Linked DNA regions of Homo sapiens: region 1 is linked to region 2. A link means that fine-mapping ties the variant in region 2 to the expression of a gene that starts in the linked region. Tissue or cell type: neutrophils. Region 2 holds a variant in brackets; the other region holds the start of a gene. All regions are shown on one strand. Distances are from middle to middle.

Region 1 (8,089 bases), 380 kb before region 2:
AGCTGAGTATGTGGAGATATGGTAAGATACTGCAGGGAGATGTGGGAGGCAGCAGGCAAGCCCTGACAGGCTTGCTTACCTCACCCCCTGTGGGGGCTCAGCTAAGTCAGGGAGCTTGCTTTCTGAGGAAACCTACAACTTTGCCCAACCTGAGTGGTGGGCTAGGCAAGGCTACAGTGCTGAAATCATGGGGTGATGGTGGGAGTAGCAAGCAGAGACCTGCAGGGCAGCAGGGGGAACAGCCAAGAGCTATAAACTCTGCTAGGGCAGCCAGGGCCTGGCAGAAAGGGGAGACACCCTCTGTTATCCCAGCTAAGATCGAAACTTGTGGTGATCCAGAGGATCAGAATCTGGAGTCGGAGAAAAAGAACTAAGAGTGTTTACGCTATGTAAAAATCAAACACTATACAAATCCTTGCCTGGCCAGAAACCAAAGTATATAAATGGGCTGGGGGTGTTGGCCTAATCTCTTCAGCTGACACCCACAGATCTTGAGCCCTCTATAAGAATAAAGGGTGAAAGAGAGCCTGAGTCAGCAAGGAATGAGATTTCAAGCTTAATCCCCTGCCCTTGTTTCTCATTCGGCATCTATAGCAGATGCTGAATGAAGAAAGTTATTTATAATTTTTTTTATTGTTATTATTTTTATTTTCTGAGACGGAGTCTCGCTCTGTCATCCAGACTAGAGTGCAGTGGTGCGATCTTGGCTTACTGCAACCTCTGCCTTCGGGTTCAAGCGATCCTCCTGCTGCAGCCTCCCAAGTAGCTCAGATTACAAGCATGCACCACCATGCCCGGCTAATTTTTGTATTTTTAGTAGAGACGGGGTTTCACTATGTTGGCCAGGCTGGTCTGGAACTCCTGACCTCAGGTGACCCACCTGCCTCGGCCTCCCAAAGTGCTGGGATTACAGGCGTGAGCCACTGCACCCGGCCTATTGTTATTTTTTAAGATAGCATCTCGCTCTGTTGCCCAGGCTGGAGTGCAGTGGCGTGATCATAGCTCACTGCAGCCTTGACCTCCTGGGCTCAAGTGATCCTCCCACCTAAGCCTTCTGAGTAACTGAGACTACTGGTGCACAGCACCATGCCCAGCTGATTTTTAAATTTTTTGTAGAGACAGGATCTCCCTGTGTTGCCCAGGCTGGTCTCAAACTCCTGACCTCAAGCAATCCTCCCACCTTAGCCTCCCAAAGTGCTAGGATTACAGGCACGAGCCACTGTGCCCAGCTGAAAGTGAAATTCTTAACTTTTCATGGGTCATAGATGCCCTTGGAAATCTTGTAATATCTAATCTATCCCTAGAAAAATGCACATGCATCCACAAAAACAAAATTTGGGATTTTTTGCATGTGAATTCAGGTGGCTTATGGAATCCTTGGACATGGGTTAAGAACTTAGAATCGCTTGAACATAGGAGGCGGAGGTTGCAGTGAGCAGAGACTGCGCCACTGCACTCCAGCCTGGGATACAGTGACTCTGTCTCAAAAAAAAAAAAAAAAAAACAGGCGGGGCACAGTGGCTCACGCCTCTAATCCCAGCACTTTGGGAGGCCAAGGCAGGCGGATCACGAGGTTAGGAGTTTAAGAACAACCTGGCTAACATGGTGAAACCCCATCTCTACTAAAAATACAAAAAATTAGCCAGGCGTGGTGGCGCACACCTGTAATCCCAGCTACTCAGGAAGCTGAGGCAGGAGAATCGCTTCAACCTAGGAGGCGGAGGTTGCAGTGAGCCGAGATTGCAACATTGCACTCCAGCCTGGGTGACAGAGCAAGACTCCATATCGGAAAAACAAAACAAAACAAAACAAAAAATTAACTATGAGTGGGAAGGGAAAGGCATTACCCTCATCCTCTGTGTCTTCCCCATTAGTCAGTTCATACAGGGTAAAGACGGAGTTGTTCTGGCCACTCCTGGAAACCTGTGAATACAGAAAATGAGGAGTGAATTAGAACCAAGAATCTCCTGGGAGACAGTAAATTCATCAGCTCCACCCCTCTGATCCAGGAATGATACCTATTCCCAAACCAGGACTCACTGTCGCCTCTGCAGAGTGGCCTAAAAGCCATAAACCCTACAAGTGCTATATTTATATGTGTACACACTCATTTGGAACCACTAAACCACAGGTCTTCACGTGTCTGAGGAGTGACCTTGACCTCTCATTCTGGTTGTTTTCCTGTTCAAGAATGGATGGTGTGTATTTGTTATATTTAGAATGTTGATGCTTCTTACCCTCTTCTCTTCCTTGGGAATGTTTGGGACTGGTGGTTTAGGGGGAAGAGTATTCTGTCCCCACACCCACACTGATTCAGAATATCTCATTCATGTTGTGGACAGTCCCATAACAGTGCAGTGGGGGAGGGGCCCCAGGTTTTTTCCCTTCCTTTCCCCATTTATCTCCTGTGGCCAGAGGCTCCAGCCAACAATAGCACTCAGGGTTCCCAGTTCTGCATTCTCCAAATATGGCCTCACATAGCCCCCGGCCTCCTACAGGCAAAGAAAGGGAGGTTCTATGCAGCCAAAGACATTGAGTCACTTAAAGAGGTTTCCCTAGAAGGCCTACACTTCCTCTTTCTGCCCCCTCCCCATTTTGCTCAGTCTGGATCTGGGAACACCGGCTATCTGCTAGGCCCTAATATAGTTAACCTTTTCCATGGGTCACTGTTGAATACTTGGCAGAATAATGATCTCACCCACTGATAGATGAGTTTCCCCCATTCTTCTGGCCTCCGCCACATGATCAGGAAGCTGGACTTGCTCTTATCCAACCACTCGAGGTTCCCTGTAAAACAGATACTTATGAAAGCATAACCAGGCGCGCAGTGGCTTACACTTTGGGAGGCCAAGGCGGGAGGACTGCTTGAGCCCAGGAGTTCGAAACTAGCCTGGGCAACATGATGAGACCCTACAGAAAATACAAAAAAATTCTCTCTATAGAAAATACAAAAAATTAGCCAGGTGTGTGGTGACACATGCCTGAGGTCTCAACTACTCAGGAGGCTGAGATGGGAGGATCACTTGAGCCTGGGAGTCGAGGCTGCAGTGAGATAGGACTGAGCCACTGCACTCCAGCCTGGATGACAGAGTGAGACCTTATCTCCCCACCCAAAAAAAAAGTATCATGAACTAAAAAGAAACAAAGAGGCAAAAAAATACCAAGGTGGGACAGAGTGGAAGAGACTCAGCTTTCAGAAAGAAAGATTCAATATTTATTTTACTATTATTATCTACAAGGCACTCATCCTTCTTCCACTTCTCTTCAGGTTTAGGGCACAGACAGAGATTTCAATTTTGTGTACAAAGAAGAAAGGACTTGGGAATTGGGCTGCCTACTTTACAGAAGACTCTGGCCTTCAAGCCAGGAGAGAGAAAAAGTTATTAAAGGGAAAAAGACTTATCCTAATTTGCCCTCAGGAAAACCCAACTAGGAAGAAAAATAAGGAATCTGGGGAACTGAACCCACCTTTCTTCCTCAGTTCCTCTAATACAATCTGGATCGACTCCACAGGAAGCTTTCCTGGTTTAAGGTTAAGGGAACGGCATACACATGAGTTGGGTAGGATAAAAATTTTCAGAGCCAGTCCCATGTTGAGAAACACCTGCCCCTTCCTCTCCCACACACATATGTGTGCAATTTCCCAACATGATATGAATTGGCATTTCCTGGATATTCAAAGGAGGAAGGTAAAGAGAAACTCTTCCAATTAAAAGGAGCTTTATGTGATTGTGCCACTGCATTCCAGCCTGAGCAAGAGAGGAAGACCCTGTCTCCAAAAAAAAAAAAAAAAAAGAAAGAAAGAAGCTTTAGAAAATGAAAGGTACTGTCATTCCTCACCCTCTGTCTGTTGCCTTCCTTCAGCCTTTCTCCACAGATATTTTAGGGATGAATCAGGCAGCAAAAACAAATGACCCTTACTTCCTGGCAGGAGGGGGGCAGAGAAAATAATTAAAGGTAGTTACCCAAGTCTGGGCCTCACACAGAAAAGGATGGAAGATACAAATAGTCAAAAGGGTTTAGGTTAAAAAACTTGGAACTTGGCTTCAGGGCAGAAATTCTAAGACCTTAATGACATCCGAGCAGTCATCACTGCCAAGAACAAGAGGGTATGGTACTGCATTTGCCAGGGGAAAATGTCAGCTACACATTTTCACTCTTTAAGTCCAGTTTGGGTGGGAATCTGCCTACCATGGGTAAAAGGGGGCTGGCGCGGGGGGGCGTCTGGGCATGTGTGAAAGCGCAGAAGTGCATGTGTATGGGCTGTGGAAGAGCCTGAGGGAGGATACGCTGTAGCTTGACGTTGTTGAAGAGCGGGCTCTCCTGAGCTTCCATCACCGTCATGCTGGACTGTTTGTGCAGGCGGCAGAAGGACAGGACCAGCGAGCACCAGGCGGCCAGCTGCTTCTGCCGAGTGTCCACATTCGGTTGTAACCTGCCGGGTGAAGGGAGTGGGGCGCAGAATTAGAGGGCGGGAGGCAGCACTTGCCCGGGACGCATTTCAGGAAGAAAGTAAGGGACTGAGGGTGTTGGCCGACGGGTCTTTTCTCCCCCTCCCCATATGAAGCATCAGGGCTGAGCCCAGGGTCCGGGGGAGGGGAGGGAGGCACAGCGGTGCTTCTTGGGGTCTGAGCCTCACGTAAAGAAGGGTGGGAAGCGATACTGCCACGGCCACTCGAAACTCATCGCCATCGTAGTAGCCCAGGAAACCCGGAAGCTACCGGCTAAGGACTTCCGGCCTTCGCTTCCGCACGTCCGGGCAGAAGGCAATGCAGAAAGGTTCCGGAAGCCTTTCTGGAAAGAGAGAGACCGGCAGGAGGAGTCCTCGTCATGACCCAGTCCCTCGCTGTTATCCTAAAAAGCCCTATCTTTTGGAGCAGGAAGAGTCCTGGGAAGTCTTCTGGTTCAACCCCAGAGAAAGGTCATGTCTTCCCCAAAGCGGCGAATTTTTGTTGCTGAAGTAGAACGGCAAATAAAGCCCAGATCTCCAGATCCCAGCCTACCTTTGTTTCCTCTATACTAGGCTTCTTTTAATATTAACATTTCTGTGAATTGCCATTTAATTTGATCAACTCACAATTACCCAAGCTCAATTCCAATGTCCTTTGTTTTATTTTTAATTTTTTATTTATTTATCTGTTTATTTATTTTTGAGAAAGGTCTCCCTTTGTTGCCCAGGCTGGAATACAGTGGCACAATCACAGCTCACTGCAGCCTCTACCTCCTGAGATCTGGCGACCGTCCGGCTTCAGCCTCCTGAGTAGCTGGGACTACAGGTGCACACCACCGCACCCAGTTATTAAATACATTTTGTTGTTGTTTTGGTACAGATGGGCGTCTCACCAAACTCCTGGGCTCAAGTGATCCTCCTGCCTCGACCTCCCAAAGTGCTGGGACTACAGGAGTGAGTTAACGCTCCCAGCAACCCGGCTAATATTTTCTAGAGATGGGCACTCACTATGTTGGCCCAGGTTGGTCTCAAACTCCTGGGCTCAAGCGATCTCCAGACCTCAGCCTCCCAAAGGGATAACAGGTGACCAACCCGGCCCTCCAATTTCCTTTGACTTCACCATTCCTCAGGCTCCTGCAGCACCCATGGGAGCACACTTTGTAGCTTGAATCACTAGAGACAGCCCTACTTCCATGATTCAGAGCTGCAGGCTTTGACCACAACCACCCATCTCTCACCTCTGCCATGACCTCGCCTTTCTTGTCTCAAGACCTAGGACCCCTTTTGGTTTTATCAGACTCCTTACCCAGCCTAAACTACTCAATTCTGTCCCCTTACCTACCTACCTACCTACAGGTCAGTTCCCAAACCAATGATCGTTGCTCCATTTCCCCCACCTCTTTTTTTCACTCCTGGGCTCTGGAGTATTGCTGGAAGAAAAATAACCAGAACATGTTTGCCAAGCCCTAGATTCCCTGACTAGCCTCACTACCGGGCTCTAAGGGCAGCTCTGTGATCCTTTGTCTTTTATTGACTCCGTCACCCTCAAGATAACTATTCAAACTTTTCCACATTCATCAAGGCACTCCACCTGTCCCCATGTCTCTGCTCTCTGCAGAACGCCTTTCATTCCTGCTTTATGAGATTGAGGCCATGCATGTGAACCCTTTAAGTTTTCCCTCTGTCTGTCTCTATACTTGATTCATCGCTCAAAAATTTCTCTCCACTTTTACTCCTTCTTTTTTTTTTTTTTTTTTTTTTTTTGAGACGGAGTCTTGCACTGTTGCCGGGTTGGAGTGCAGTGGCTTGATCTCAGCTCACTGCAACCTCTGCCTCCCTGGTTCAAGCGATTCTCCTGCCTCAGCCTCCCTAGAAGCTGGGATTACAGGCATGAGCTACCACACCCAGCTAATTTTTGTATTTTTAGTAGAGACGGGGTTTCACCATGTTGGTCAGGCTGGTCTCAAACTCCTGACCTCAAGTGATCCGCCCACCTCGGCCTCCCAAAGTGCTGGGATTACCAACCGCATCCAGCCTACTCCTTCCTTTTGGACTCAGAAGAAGTGTTGCACCCTTTGGCATATGTTCTTGCCTCCCCTTTTCAACTTCCTCCAGGACTTCTCTATCATCTTCCCTCTCGCCCTTGCCCTTAGCTCCTCTCCCATATACTATAAATATGCACAGGTCTTCCTTAATTAAAAATATGTAAACCCTTGGCCAGGCTTGGTGGCTCATGCCTGTAATCTCAGCACTTTGGGAGGCCGAGGCAGGTGGATCACGTGAAGTCAGGAGTTGTTCAAGATCAGCCTGGCCAGCATGGTGAAACCCCGTCTCTACTAAAAAATACAAAAAAATAGCCGGGCGTGGTGGTGGGCACCTGTAATCCCAGCTACTTGGGAGGCAGAGGCAGGAGAATCGCTTGAACCCGGGAGGCGGAGGTTGCGGTGACGCGAGATCGCGCCATTGCACTCCAGCCTGGGCGACAAGAGCAAAACTCCATCTCAAAAAATAATCATAATAATTATATATATATATTTTTTAGACGGAGTTTCGCTCTTGTCACCAAGGCTGGAGTGCAATGGCGCGATCTCGGCTCACCGTAACCACTGCTTCCCAGGTTCAAGCAATTCTGCCTCAGCCTCCCAAGTAGCTGGGACTACAGGCATGCGTCACCACACCTGGCTAATTTTTGTATTTTTACTAGAGATGGAGTTTCACCATCTTGGCCAGGCTGGTATCGAATTCCTGACCTCGTGATCCACCCGCCTCGGCCTCCCAAAGTGCTGGGATTACAGGCGTGAGCCACTGCACCTGGCCCAATAATAATGATATTTACATCCCTTGGTATCATAGCAAGACTCCATCTATACAAAAAATTTTAAAAATTAGCCAGGCATGGTGACACATGCCTGTAGTCCCTACACTTTGGGAGGCTGAGACAGGAGGATTATTTGACCCCAGGAGTTTGAGGCTGCAGTGTGGTATGATCGCACCACTGCACTCCAGCCTGGATGACAGAGCAAGACCCTTTCTCTTAAAGAAAAAAAAAAAGTACAGGCTGGGCGTGGTGGCTCACACTTGTAATCCCAGCACTTTGGGAAGCTGAGGCGGGCGGATCACTTGAGATCAGGAGTTGGAGAGCAGCCTGGGCAACATGGTGAAACCCTGTCTTTACTAAAAATACAAAAATTAGCTGGATGTGTTGGTGCACATGCCTGTAATCCCAGCTATACAGGAGGCTGAGGCACAAGAATTGCTTAAACCCAAAAGGTAGAAGTTGCAGTGCCTAGATCACACCACTGCACTCCAGCCTGGGAGACAGAACGAGACTCTGTATCAAATAAATAAATAAATAAATAAGTACAAACCTTGACCTTGTCATCATCTGATCTCAATTTTCTGTCTGATTTCCAACCTTTCCCTCACCCAAATCCTTCACGCGCACAGTTCCTGTGACCTTAGTTTCTGGGTAAAAGAAAAAAAAAGAAAAGGCCAGCTGCAGTGGCTCACGCCTGTAATCTCAGCACTGTGGGAGGCCGAGGTGGGCGGATCACTTGAGGTCAGGAGTTCAAGACCAGCCTGGCCAACATGGTGAAACCTCGTCTCTACAAAAAATACAAAAAATTAGCCAGGCATGGT
Region 2 (8,104 bases):
TCATGCCTATAATCTCAGCACTTTGGGAGGCCAAGACAGGCAGATCACCTGAGGTCAGGAGTTTGAGACCAGCCTGGCCAACATGGTGAAACCCCGTCTCTACTAAAAACACAAAAATTAGTTGGACATGGTGGTGGGCACCTGTAATCCCAGCTACTCGGGAGGCTGATGCAGAAGAATCACTTGAACCCGGGAGATGGAGATTGCAGTGAGCCAGCATCTTGCCACTGCACTCTAGCCTGGGTTACAGAGCGAGACTCTGTCTCAAAAAAAAAAAAAATTAAATAAATAGAAAAGAACTGTGATGAATTCCACAGGAAACAGGATATAGAAATAGGGATTAACAGGCTGTGAATAACTTTAGATAGGAGTGGTTAGACAAGGTCTGTTGGAGTAACAAGGAAACAGCCACGCCAAAGCCGGGGAAGGAAAAGGAACAGCATATGCAAAGGTCCTGAGCTGGGAAGTGGACTGGCTGGAATTTAGTGGGCAGCAGAGATGTAGGTGGGGTAGGCAGGGCCTTGAAGGAGATGAGATAAAGAAGAACTGTATCCAAAGCCCCATGAGAATTGACTGGAAGAAAAGAAGGACATGGTATGAATGATGTGTTAAGCGATACAGGAAAAAACATCATAGCCTTGAAAATATTGAGCTGGGGGCCAGGCGCGGTGGCTCACGCCTGTAATCCCAGAATTTTGGGAGGCCAAGGTGGGTGGATCACAAGGTCAGGAGTTTGCAGGAGGCGGAGGTTGCAGTGAGCCAAGATCGTGCCATTGCACTCCAGACTGGGCGACAGGGCGACACTTGGTTTCAAAAAACAAAAAAGGCCGGGAGCGGTGGCTCACGCCTGTAATGCCAGCACTTTGGGAGGCCAAGGTGGGTGAATCACAAAGTCAGGAGATTGAGACCATCCTGGCTAACACGGTGAAACCCCATCTCTACTAAAAAAAATACAAAAAGTTAGCTGGGCGTGGTGGTGGGAGCCTGTAGTCCCAGCTGCTCGGGAGGCTGAAGCAGGAGAATGGCGTGAACCTGGGAGGCGGAGCTTGCAGTGAGCCCAGATTGCGCCACTGCACTCCAGCCTGGGCGACAGAGCGAGACTCCGTCTCAAAACAAACAAACAAAAAAGGAAAAAAAAAAAGAAAATATTGAGTGGGGAGGACTGTTCAGACTGAAGGAAAGAGACATATCTGCATAACGATGCCTGAGGTGTTTTGGCAGAGAGAAGGCCCAAAGAGTTTGTGTTGCGCAGACCTGCTCTTCACTGTGATATTAGTGGGAGTTTTGGGCAGCCCTGGGTGAGCCTTTCTGTTGCTGAACCCCATGAAGATCTCATCACCCTCACAGGTTGCCCCTTACTCCCTTTGGTCACCACAGTGACTTGCCACCCACTTACCATCCCCAAGGTTCTCTTTCTTGCTATGCTTTCCTCTTGACTTTGGGTTTTACTGCTAATTCCTTCGGGGAAGAGGTGAAGCAGTTCTCACAGGGTTAACGAGAATTTTGGACACAAATATAGTTATAATTAAGGAAAAACAGATATAAAGCTCTCAATTTAGACAAACTGTGCTTGAATTTGAATCCTGGCTCTGCCATTTACCAGCTGTATGTTCTTGGGGAAGTGACTTAGCCTTAGGTAAGTCTCATTTTCTGCATCTATAAAGTCACAGTATTTGCCTCATGGGGTTATTGTAAGGATTAAATGAGTTCACAGATATGTTACATGAATTACATTCTTAGAACAGTGGCTAGTACATATTCAACACTCTGTGTTTGTTAATGCTGATGTCATTATTCAAGACTTTTTTTGGAGACAGAGTCTCGCTCTGTCGCCCAGGCTGGAGTGCAGTGGTGCTACCTCGGCTCACTGCAACCTCCACCTCCCAGGTGCAAGCGATTCTCCTCCCTCAGACTCCCAAGTAGCTGGGATTACAGGCACCCGCCACCATGCCCAGCTAATTTTTGTATTTTTAGTAGAGACAAGGTTTCACCACGTTGGCCAGGCTGGTTTCAAACTCCTGACCTCAAGTGATCCGCCTGCCTCAGCCTCCCAAAGTGCTAGGACTACAGGATGAGCCACCACGTCAGGCCTCAAGACTTATTTATTAATATTTAATTAATTCAGTCTTAGGTGAGCTCTAGGCTAGATGATAGATGCTGAGATTATGAAGACAGGGCTTAAGGGGTTCAAGTTTCCAGGAACCCACAGTTTAGGGGAAGATGTTTGTTAGCACGTGGCCAGAGAGTCAGCCAGACCTGATTTTCATTCTGAGTTTCCACCTAGTTTCTAGCTGTGAGACCAGTCTTGAGCCAGTCTTTCACTTTCTCAGTCTTCGTTTCCTCAATTGTAAAATAAGAATTATAATATTACCCTCACTGGGTTCTGGTGAGGATCAAATGAGATAATCTATGTAAAATGCTTAGCACAGTTCCTGGAATATAGTAGTAATTACTTAATCAATGTTAATTATTGTTTTTTTTCAGGAAGTAGGCCAATATGTGGATTTATTAGAATTCAAGGTAGAGAATGTATTCTAGATGGGGAAACAACCTGCCGAAGGAGTCTGGTAGGAGATTAACTTTGCCAGTAAGAATAGAAGGAAGCCTAGAGGAGGTGATGTTGCAACAGGGCTTTGAAGAATGAGTAAGAGTTCTCAGGTAGGGACTGAGGAAAGAGATTCCAGGTAGAAGGAAGACTATCCACAGAGGCATGAAGTTGCAGAAGGTGTAGACATGTTTGGAGGAAGGTAACACATTTAGTAGGGTTTGTGGGACTAGGTTAGAAAAGGGGGGATTCAGGTCAGCCTTTGTGGAATTTATCTTTTTTTTGAGACAGAGTCTCACTGTATTACCCAGGCTGGATTGCAATGGTGCAATCTTAGCTCACTGCAACCTTTGTCTCCTGGGTTCAAGCGATTCTTCTGCCTCACCCTACCGAGTACCTGGGATTACAGGTGCCCGCCAACACGCTTGGCTAATTTTTGTATTTTTAGTAGAGACAGACTTTCACCATGTTGGTCAGGCTGGTCTTGAACTCCTGACCTCAGGTGATCCACCCGCTTCGGCCTCTCAAAGTGCTGAGATTACAGGCGTGAGCCACTGTGCTGGGCCTGTAGGATTTTATGATTCAAATAAAGAGGGAGAAAGAAGGAACATCAATTGAGCTCCTACCACATGCATGGCACTGAATTATGGTGTTTTTTTCTTTTTTCTTTTTTTTTTTGAGACAGAGTCTCACTTTGTTGCCTGGGCTGGAGTGCAGTGGCATGATCTCGGCTCACTGCAACCTCTGCCTCCCGGGTTCAAACGATTCTCCTGCCTCAGCCTCCCAAGTAGCTGGGATTACAGGCACCCGCCACTATGCCCAGCTAATTTTTTTGTATTTTTAGTAGAGACGGGGTTTCATCATGTTGGCCAGGCTGGTCTCGAACTCCTGACCTCAGGATTCGCCCGCCTCGGCCTCCCAAAATGCTGGGATTACAGGCATGAGCCACCGCGCCCAGCCATGGCACTGAATTAAATGGTCAGCTTTTTGTTTATTGTTTGTTTTTGAGACAAGGTTGGTCTTGTTCTGTTGCTCAGACTACAGTACAGTAGAACAGTCATAGCTCACTGTAACTTCGAACTTCTTTCTAAGTTCAAGTGATCCTCCTGCCTCAGTCCTCAGAATAGCTGGGACTACAGGCATGCCACCACCACGCCCGGCTAATTTTTTGTAAAGTTGGTGTTTTGCCATGTTGCCCAGGCTGATCTCGAACTCCTGGCCTCAAATGATCTTCCTGCCTCGGTCTCCCAAAGCTTTAGGATTACAGGCATGAGCCACTGTGCCTGGTCAGCATTTTTAAAATTTAACTTGGATTGGCCGGACACGGTGGCTCCCAGCACTTTGGGAGGCTGAGGTGGGCGGATCACTTGAGGTCAGGAGTTCAAGACCAGCCTAGCCAACACAGTAAAACCCCGTCTCTACTAAAAATGCAAAAATTAGCTGGGCATGGTGGTGGGCACCTGTAGTCCCAGCTACTTGGGAAGCTGAGGCAGGAGAATTGCTTGAACCTGGGAGGCGGAGGTTGCAGTGACCCAGGATCATACCATCGCATTCCAGCCTAGGCGACAAGAGGAAACTCTGTCTCAAAAAAAAAAAAAAAAAAAA[AAAT/T]TAACTTGGATTTTATCTTGCCGGTAGTAGGGAACCATAGAGATTTTTAAGCCGACTGTGACATGATTGAATTTTTTTTTTTTTTTTTTTTTGAGCCAGGGTCTTGCTCTATCGCCTAGGCTGGAGTGCAGTGGAGGGATCTGGGCTCACTGCAACCTCCACCTCCTGGGTTCAAGCAATTCTCCTGCCTTAGCCTCCTGAGTAGTTGGGACTACAGGCACGTGCCACCATGGCTAGCTAATTTTTACTTTTGTTTTGAGATGGAGTTTCGCTCTTGTTGTCCAGGCTAGAATGCAATGGCGCGATCTCGGCTCACTGCAACCTTCACCTCCCGGGTTCAAGAGATTCTCTTCCCTCAGCCTCCCGAGTAGCAGGGATTACAGGTGCAAGCCACCATGACTGGCTGATTTTTGTATTTTTAGTAGAGACAGGGTTTCATCATATTAGTCAGGCTGGTCTCGAACTCCTGACCTCAGGTGATCTGCCCGCCTCAGCCTCCTAAAGTGCTGGGATTACAGGCGTGAGCCACAGTGCCCAGCCTAATTTTTGTATTTTTAGTAGAGACGGGGTTTCACTGTGTTGGCCAGGCTGGTCTTGAACTGACCTTGTGATCCACCCGCCTTGGCCTGAATGTTTATTTATTTAATTTTTAGGATGATGTCCCTGGCAGCCAGTGGAAGAATAGGATAGAATAAGGAGAGAATAATCAGGTGGTTAAGGCAGTGGCCCAAGGGACAGAAATTGCAGCATTTAGCCAAGAGGAATTTGGCGGGGTTGTGGAGAAAGGCCAGTGTCTGGGCTGAAGAGAATTTTTGCAGGTCAAACCCATAGTCGCAGAGGTAGATTTTATGTGTTACTGGTGGGGAGGCCAATGAGGGAAACAGAGGCCAGCTCTTGAGAAGTCAGAAGCAGGGCAGGGTTTGAATGAATGGAACAAAGCTATGGGACGTAAAGCCCCCAAACCTGACTCTGAACCTGGTATATTTCTGAGTTTCTCTGTGATCTTGAAAATGTCATATTATGTTGTCTTTAGTTTTCTATCAGCGGATAATATGGCCTCTCCTATCTGCTATTCATGATTGTGAGAAAGAAACCAGGCAGGGAGTGTATAAGGTGTGTAAGTCCTTTGTAAGCAGTAAATCACTAAACAAATCCTAGACCCTATGTTATCAGGGAGGCAGTTGGCCGCACGGGATAGCGTAGTTACAAGAGACTATAGGCGGAGATGGGGGATATCTGTCCTGTGGTGTAGATAAACAGCCTAATCAATACACACACACTCTACAGGTAAATACAGCAATTTCCATACTGAGCTGTGTCTACCAGAGGGCAATAGGAGGTTCTCAATTCTCACCACCAGTGACCCTATGAATTGCCCTGTAGATGCCTCTGTCCCTCATTGGATATGAGGTGGTACGAGCGGTCTGAATCTGTAGACTTAGACAGGCTTCAGGTATCTGGGGAACCATGTGAGTAAAACCTTGTATTGTTTCTGGGGCTAGAATCTAGTCTCCTTCAAACACTCAGAAGGATCTGTGACTGCCTTCAAAGGTTAAGAGTCATTGATTTTTCTCACTAGAAATTAATAAGAACAGCTATCCTTGGGGAGAAGGAATGATGGGGGTAGGGAAAGATTTTCATTTAATATTTTTGACCTTTCTGAACGGTCTGCATTTTCTAAACAGGAACATGTATTAGGTTCATTGAAAAAAAATATGTCAGGGGTTAGCTGAGCAGTGAGATAATGGGTCCTTTTTAGATTTTTGTCTTTATACCTGTTCGTATTAAACAAACACAAATATTAATAACATATTTTTAAAGACCCAAAAAAATAAAAATTAAAAACCCTGATAGTATCAGCACATACACAGAAATCACTCCATTATGCAAAGTTCATCCTCTATTATGAAAGGCAAAATGTCTACATTTCCTATCAACCACTGGCTTCAATTCAGTAAAACTTGCATACCAAGTAGGCAAGGTGGAAAAGAAAAAGGCAGAACATTTCATGTATTTCAATTCAGACGCATAAAAATGTCAAGCCCTACACGTTATCAGCTTTCGTATACACCGTCTTCTGCATTCGCCTGTACGGGCCAATGGGCTAGCTGGTCGGCGTTTGATGCTTGAAGTGATGGAACGGAGTACGGGGTTAAATCCACTACCCTCTCCCCACGCACTCTAGTAATTACTCTATTTCCACGTCATGTTTCCGGGTGTGTGTGTCCCTGCTCACGCAGAAACTGAAGTTCAAAGCAGGCGGAGTCACCCATGTTCTTTTTGTTGTCCCCAGAACCCAATTCAGGAGTTGGGTCCCCAGAGGATCTGGAGATACCTGGGGACTATCTAACTAGCTGATTCCCGCGTGGTAAGAGGCTCTCAACCTCGCCACCACGTGGTGCCAAGGGCCGGGAAAAGGGAGAGCGGGCAGGAGGGAGCTGTATCAGGGGCATTTAAAGTGCCTTGACGTCACGCACTGCCAGGAACTCAGCTGAGTTTTCAGCAGGACATTCCGGTCATCTTCCCTCCCTCCCCCCGGGCTTCTGTGCCCAAGTCCTCGGCTCTTCCCTCGCTGTGGCGGAGGGAGGAGCACCGAACTGTCGGAACAGCCAGCACAGGGGCGTATCAGTCTCCTCTTGGCTCCGCCCTTTCTCCTAGCTGCTCTCCTCATTGGTCAGTGGGCGGGGCTTCGGCTGTACCGCACACGCACTGGGACCTCTGGGTGGCCGAACGAGCTGGCCTTTCATGAATTATGCATGACGGCGTGCCTCGGCCAGGCTGGGGCTGGGCGAGGATTGGCTGAAGGGGCTGTAATTCAGCGGTTTCCGGAGCTGCGGCGGCGCAGACTGGGAGGGGGAGCCGGGGGTTCCGACGTCGCAGCCGAGGGAACAAGCCCCAACCGGATCCTGGACAGGCACCCCGGCTTGGCGCTGTCTCTCCCCCTCGGCTCGGAGAGGCCCTTCGGCCTGAGGGAGCCTCGCCGCCCGTCCCCGGCACACGCGCAGCCCCGGCCTCTCGGCCTCTGCCGGAGAAACAGGTGAAGGGGGTGCAGGGTGGGGCCGTTGGGGAGGCCTGGGGACCCGGGGGCTCCGCAGCGGCAGGGGGCCTCTGGGACCTTGGGGATGTTGTGATGGACGCTGCAGTGGGGCCGGGAGAGATGAAGAGACGCGGAGGGTCGCCCTGAGGGAAGACTCTTCGGGATGACAGGAGCGGGCCTCGGAAGGGACTCGGGGCGCTGGAGGGAAGTTTCGTTCTTCGGAGAAACAGAACGCGCTCGAGGGGGCACCGTGGGGCGAGGGCGCACTCGGTTGCGGCGGCAGGAGTGAGGGACAGTCCCCCGATTTCCTGCTCCCTGGGGCCCTGGGGACGTTCCGGCCACCGGAGCGACTGTCACGCCGACGGGGATCACCGGCGCGAGTGGGGGGTCGGAAAGCGCCTCCTCCCCGCCCGGTCGGCGGCTCCCGCTGAGCCACTTCCTCCGCTTGCCCTGTTCCCGCTCCTTCAGGAGACAGCTGTGCCCTTTTGGAGGCAGGAATAGGTGTGTCTGTCGCCTGCAGCCTTACGGGCTGGCTGGTCGTGGGTAGGCTTTATTGCATAAGAATCAAGTTTCCTGTAGGGAAATTGACAGACCGGTACTCTTTCTAAATTCCCTCGCATCTTTTTCTAGGTTAAATTATGCTCCCCCCACGTCCCCGCCTTGTAAAAAAGAGAAAAAAAGACAAAATAAAATCCCCATCAACCCGTCAAGCCAGCTCTAGAGAGAGAAATAAACCTCTTGACATTGTCCTTTTCCAAATACCTGGTAAAGTCGGCCAGAAGATAAATAATTGAGCCATTGCATTTACTGGATTGTGGTGTTGCTTAATTGCATAGGACGGAATGAACCAATTGAGAGTGGGAGTTTTCTGTCTCAGAGCCAAGATCTTGGGTAAATGCAGAGGAGAGGGAAAC

Which allele goes with the higher level. Positions count from the first base shown, and alleles are read on the strand shown. Sizes are in standard deviations (SD) of each study's normalised expression.
As copies of T replace AAAT in region 2, the expression in neutrophils of the gene that starts at base 4,719 in region 1 goes up (large effect, 1.5 SD a copy in BLUEPRINT).

What was found. PIP is the estimated chance that this variant, and not a neighbour inherited with it, causes the effect.
Region 1: it holds the start of VPS25, and the variant in region 2 is fine-mapped to the expression of VPS25 in neutrophils (BLUEPRINT, PIP 0.91).

What each region holds. Positions count from the first base shown.
Region 1 is chr17:42,770,079-42,778,167 of GRCh38, reverse strand. VPS25 (vacuolar protein sorting 25 homolog) reads right to left here and starts at 4,719. Exons shown (of 6, transcript NM_032353.4): 1 at 4,640-4,719; 2 at 4,290-4,435; 3 at 3,469-3,522; 4 at 2,699-2,787; 5 at 1,848-1,923. The coding sequence starts at 4,692. RefSeq lists enhancers at 2,263-2,557, 3,997-4,544, 4,628-4,827.
Region 2 is chr17:42,387,365-42,395,468 of GRCh38, reverse strand. It overlaps STAT3 (signal transducer and activator of transcription 3), which reads left to right and starts at 7,027. Exons shown (of 24, transcript NM_139276.3): 1 at 7,027-7,190. RefSeq lists enhancers at 1,861-2,130, 6,307-6,576 and silencers at 7,097-7,376, 7,607-7,686. The variant AAAT/T (reference allele first, on the strand shown) is at 4,151.